2 separate regions of the Homo sapiens genome follow, and region 1 is linked to region 2. The links come from fine-mapping of genetic effects on gene expression. A gene starts in region 2. The other region holds a variant in brackets. All regions are shown on one strand. Distances are between the middles of the regions.

Region 1 (2,916 bases), 560 kb before region 2:
ACCACTGCTCAAGGAAATAAAAGAGGATACAAACAAATGGAAGAACATTCCATGCTCATGGGTAGGAAGAATCAATATTGTGAAAATGGCCATACTGCCCAAGGTAATTTACAGATTCAATGCCATCCCCATCAAGGTATCAATCACTTTCTTCACAGAATTGGAAAAAACTACTTTAAAGTTTATATGGAACCAAAAAAGAGCCCACATCGCCAAGTCAATCCTAAGCCAAAAGAACAAAGCTGGAGGCATCACACTACCTGACTTCAAACTATACTACAAGGCAACAGTAACCAAAATAACATGATACTGGTCCCAAAACAGAGATATAGATAAATGGAACGGAACAGAGCCCTCAGAAATAATGCCACATATCTACAACTATCTGATCTTTGACAAACCTGAGAAAAACAAGCAATGGGGAAAGGATTCCCTATTTAATAAATGGTGCTGGGAAAACTGGCTAGCCATATGTAGAAAGCTGAAACTAGATCCCTTCCTTACACCTTATACAAAAATCAATTCAAGATGGATTAAAGACTTAAATGTTACACCTAAAACCACAAAAACCCTAGAAGAAAACCCAGGCATTACCATTCAGGACATAGGCATGGGCAAGGACTTCATGTCTAAAACACCAAAAGCAATGGCAACAAAAGACAAAATTGACAAATGGGATCTAATTCAACTAGAGTTTCTGCACAGCAAAAGAAACTACCATCAGAGTGAACAGGCAACCTACAAAATGGGAGAAAATTTTTGCAGCCTACTCATCTGACAAAGGGCTAATATCCAGAATCTACAATGAACTCAAACAAATTTACAAGAAAAAAACAAACAACCCCATCAAAAAGTGGGCAAAGGACATGAACAGACACTTCTCAAAAGAAGACATTTATGCAGCCAAAAAACACATGAAAAAATGCTCACCATCACTGGCCATCAGAGAAATGCAAATCAAAACCACAATGAGATACCATCTCACACCAGTTAGAATGGCAATCATTAAAAAGTCAGGAAACAACAGGTGCTGGAGAAGATGTGGAGAAATAGGAACACTTTTACACTGTTGTTGGGACTGTAAACTAGTTCAACCATTGTGGAAGTCAGTGTGGTGATTCCTCAGGGATCTAAAACTAGAAACACCATTTGACCCAGCCATCCCATTACTGGGTATATACCCAAAGGACTATAAATCGTGCTGCTATAAAGACACATGCACATGTATGTTTATTGCAGCATTATTCACAATAGCAAAGACTTGGAACCAACCCAAATGTCCAACAATGATAGACTGGATTAAGAAAATGTGGCACATATACACCATGGAATACTATGCAGCCATAAAAAATGATGAGTGCATGTCCTTTGTAGGGACACGGATGAAATTGGAAATCATCATTCTCAGTAAACTATTGCAAGAACAAAAAACTAAACACCACATATTCTCACTCATAGGTGGAATTGAACAATGAGAACACATGGACAACAGGAAGGGGAACATCACACTCTGGGGCTGTTGTGGGGTGGGGGGAGGGGGAGGGATAGCATTGGGAGATATACCTAATGCTAGATGACGAGTTAGTGGGTGCAGCGCACCAGCATGGCACATGTATACATATGTAAGTAACCTGCACATTGTGCACTTGTACCCTAAAACTTAAAGTATAATAATAATA[AT/A]AAAAAAAGAATGGTTTAACTCTGGGAGAAGAATGCACACATGAAAAAGAAGTTTCTCAGAATGCCTCTGTCTAGTTTTTATGTTAAGATATTTGTTTTTCACCTTAGGCCTCAAACTGCCCAGAAATATCCCTTTGCAGATTGTACAAAAAGATGGTTTCCAAACTGCTCAATGAAAACAAGGGTTCAACACTGTGACATGAATATGCACATCACAAAGAAGTTTTTCAGAAAGCTTCTGTTTAGTTTTTAAGTGAAGATATTTCCTTTTTCACCATAGGCCTCAAAGTGCTCCAAATATCCTTTTGCAGAACCTAAAAAAAAAAGAGTTTCCAAACTGTTCAATTAAAAGAAATCTGTGAGAAGAAAGCACACATCACAAAGAAGTTTCTCATAATGCTTCTGTCTACTTTTTTTGTGAAGATATTTCCTATATCACCATAGGCCTCAAAGGTCTCAAAAATATCCCTTTGCAGACTGTACAAAAACACAGTTTTCAAACTGCTCCATGAAAAGAAAGTTTCAGATCTGTGAGATGAATGCACACATAATAAATTACTTTCTCATAATGCTTTGATCTAGTTTTTATGTGAAGATATTTCTTTTTCACCATAGACATCAAACCATTCAGAAGTATCCCTTTGTAGATTGTACAAAAAGACGGTTTCCAAACTGCTCAATCAAAAGAAAGGTTCAAACATGTGAGTTGAGTGCACAGATAACAAAGAAGTTTCTCAGAAATCTTCTGTCTTGTTTTTATGTGAAGATATTTCATTTCTCAACATAGGCCTCAAAGCAATCCAAATAGCCATTTGCAGATTCTACAAAAAGACTGTTTCCCAACTGATCAATCAAAACAAATTTTTAGCTCTCTGAGATGAAAGCACACATCACAAAAAAGTTACTCAGATAGCTTCTCTCTAGTTTGTATGTGAAGATATTTCCTATTTCACCTGATGCCATAAAGGGCTCACACATACCCCTTTGAAGGTTCTACAAAAAGACTGTTTCCAAACTGCTTAATCAAAAGAAAGGTTCAACTCTGTGAGATGAATGGACACGTCACAAGGAAATTCTCAGACTGACTCTGTCTAGTTTTTACGTGAAGATATTTCTCTTTCACCATAGGCCACAAATGGATCAGAATTATCCCTTTGCAGATTGTACAATAAGCCTCTTTCCAACCTTTTCAATCAAAAGAAAGGTTCAACTCTGTGAGATGAATCCACACATCAC
Region 2 (2,916 bases):
GGTGTTGTCCAGGCGTGTGCCGGTGGAAGGGGAAAACAGGTGACATTTCCATCAATGCCAAGGAAAATCGAAAACACCTGGGACCCGAGGGGTGTGGGGGGGGCCTGTGACTGACCCAAGCCACGTTTTCGAATGCCTACCGGAGGAGCAAAGAGGTTTCTGCAAAATTCGCCCCAACCCCAACCCTCCAAGGCCCTGGCAGCCCTGACGCAACTTCGGCTGCACAGAGCCCCAGCCCCAGCCCCCAGCCCTAGACCAGTCCCTTTGTTTCCCTTACATTCGTTTCGGCCAGAAGATCAAGGGGTTCAGTCCACCCAGGAGCAGAGGAGAGGATGTCCCTCAAGAATGAGACAGGAAGTGCAGAGGAAATGCGACACCACCTGTCGTGGAAGACAAGGCCAGTCACGGTCGCCTAGCGCTCATTCTAGGTAATCCACCCACCCATGAGGGGAAACGTGGAGAAGACACCTGCCTGAGACACCTATGGAAGCCAAGTGTTCCCGGGCCATGAGACCTGCCCAATCAAGCAGAAACACATTTGGAGAGACAAACAATCACGACACGGGTCTCCAGGAAGTGTCTCCCTGACGGAGTGGGAAGTCATCTTAGTTGAAGGCATTTGGCCAGAGCGAGAGGCATCCAGGTCCCTGAGAAACAGGGGAGGCAGAGCAAGAGGGAGGACAGAGCAGAGGCCGGAGCCCAGGCAGGATACAGCACCTTGCCACCGTCACAGGCATAAGGGGTGGGGTTCCTAAAGGGTGGCTTGTGCAGGGAGGCCAGCGTTCCAGGGACAGGGATTGTTGCCATCTCTCATTCCTGGCTTCCTCTTGCTGACTGTATCGTGGTGTGGCTTCATTTCTCAGAGAAGAGCCGCGAAAAGACTCAAACATCTTCTCTGACGTGGGTCCGCTGATCTCCTGTGGGACAAAGAGCTCCTGTGGGGCTCTTGTCCTCATCTGCAGTGTGTTCCTCTTGATGCTAGAAAAGAGGACGCTCAGGATGGGGACGAGACAGCAATTGCTCCAAGACCGACGCATCTTCTCACGTGGGCCAGGCTTTCACGCAGCCAAAGCAGATCCGCGGGGGCGAAAACGATTGACAACCGGCCTCATGACCCAGGCAGAGACACAGAAAGAGGTTCAACAAAGACAGGCCGCCATGCAAGAGACAGCTCTGTGGTTCACAGGGCATATTCAGCCAAAGACACACAAGCACACGGGCACACACACACAAACCCACAGAGAGTGGGAAAGAAACACACAGAGACTGAGAGACAGAGAGAGAAGGGAGAATGGGAGACACACACACACACAAACAAAGGGTCATACAGCAGAGGCATTGAAACACACACCACCAGGCAACCCCTGAGGCTGCGGGGTTCTGCTGTCAACCAGAACGACCCTCGGGTGAAAGAGCAGCCCAGGGGCACGCAGGCCAACCGGTCCTCGAGATCACGGACGGCGGCACGACATTTGGGGAGACTCACTCCAACCAACACCGTCCGGGCAGGCCTGAGGCTGGGAGCCCCTGCTGCTTCCCCCGTCTCCGCCTGGGGGAGCCCACCACCTACCCACCCTCCATTCACCTCCCCTCCTTAAGGCTCACTAAGCTCTATTTACCTTTTGTAACTCCATCCCTCCGTAAGTACACAACTCTCCTAGCTGGTTTCCTAGAGGGCAGATACAGTGTTTCCAGTTGGCCCTCTGCAGATATCTATGAACAAGTCTCTCCCAGCCCCTACATATAAATATGTGTGTTCTAGACAGACGGGCCTAAGTCCCAATGTAAACACATCACAAGATAATTACACCTTATATGCATACAGATCTCTCTATAGAGTTATATTTGAAAGTGTCTATAACTCTAGAGAGAGATTGCAGCATGCACATATAGGACTGTAATTACTTATATGTATTTTTATAACTATGTAGTTATAAATAGATATGCCTATATATAGTGATAATAATATAGCAATATCTCCATAGCCATATATGGCTCTAAATGAATGCTCTAACTACTCTATTTCACAATCAATAAGTATATATCTTCTGATACATAATTCTAACAATATACGTTTTTATCTATATAGCTGTTCAGAGATATAAATCTGTCAGGATATCAAATGTACATAAAGCTGGATGGCTGTAAGAGAGTCGTATATTTTCCCATATATAAATCTGCTCCTATAACTACTGTATATGCACAAATACAATGGAAATAGTTATATTTCCCTCAAACATAAATCTGTAAATACAACCACAGCACATTTAGGTACGGTTAGACATAGAGCAATATTTCCTAGATATCAGTCTGTCAATAGAGCCACAGTGTCTCCAAACAGAGAGTTATAGAGGGAGTTATAAATAAACTCTCCAGATGTGAACGGATCAGTAGAACTAGATGTAAACATGACTCCAAGCCGTTCTTTCTTCTTCTTCTTCTTTGTAAGATATTCCTGAAGCAAGCCCAGTCATATAACAGGGTGCAAAGGTGTCTGGGTACTGGTATTTTTCCCCCCAAGGAGGGTCGGAAGTCGCTGGACTTTGGGAAACTGAGCAGGAGTGGGTAGGGGACAGTGCCCGCTCCCAACGCAATCCAGAAGCCCCTTCCGTCTGTCTCCTGGTGGCTGAGAGCTCGGGCAAGTGGAGAGGCCTAAGGGAGAAAAATGAAAAAGCAGAGTCTGGCTTGAGTCGTTTGGCCCTTCTGCCTAAAACCCTCTCAACAGGGAAGCCCCGACCAGGCGTCGGAGCGGAGAGAGCCCACGAGGCACAGAGGTTGGGAGAAAGGGTCTGCAGGCCGGGCTTCGGAGGCCTAGCGGAGTCGCCAGCCGGTGCCTGACCGCCCGGCGCCCCATCGCCCAGGGCCGCTGCCTCGCCGCAGGCCTGAACACAAAACCTGGGCCCTAGCCCTGCGCCC

Alleles and levels. Positions count from the first base shown, and alleles are read on the strand shown. Sizes are in standard deviations (SD) of each study's normalised expression.
For the expression in tibial nerve of the gene that starts at base 1,717 in region 2, allele A in region 1 goes with a lower level than allele AT (moderate effect, 0.45 SD a copy in GTEx).

Evidence for each region. PIP is the estimated chance that this variant, and not a neighbour inherited with it, causes the effect. A credible set is the group of variants that fine-mapping cannot tell apart.
Region 1: its variant is the best candidate, but not a certain one, in a credible set for the expression of LINC01597 in tibial nerve (GTEx, PIP 0.64).

What each region holds. Positions count from the first base shown.
Region 1 is chr20:29,725,646-29,728,561 of GRCh38, forward strand. No RefSeq gene overlaps it. Among named protein-coding and RNA genes, the nearest start is that of FAM242B, 180 kb to the left of the region's middle. The variant AT/A (reference allele first, on the strand shown) is at 1,680.
Region 2 is chr20:30,284,821-30,287,736 of GRCh38, forward strand. LINC01597 (long intergenic non-protein coding RNA 1597) reads right to left here and starts at 1,717. Exons shown (of 2, transcript NR_145432.2): 1 at 1,620-1,717. It overlaps LOC107985433 (putative uncharacterized protein LOC401522), which reads right to left. Exons shown (of 3, transcript NR_171672.1): 3 at 2,208-2,652.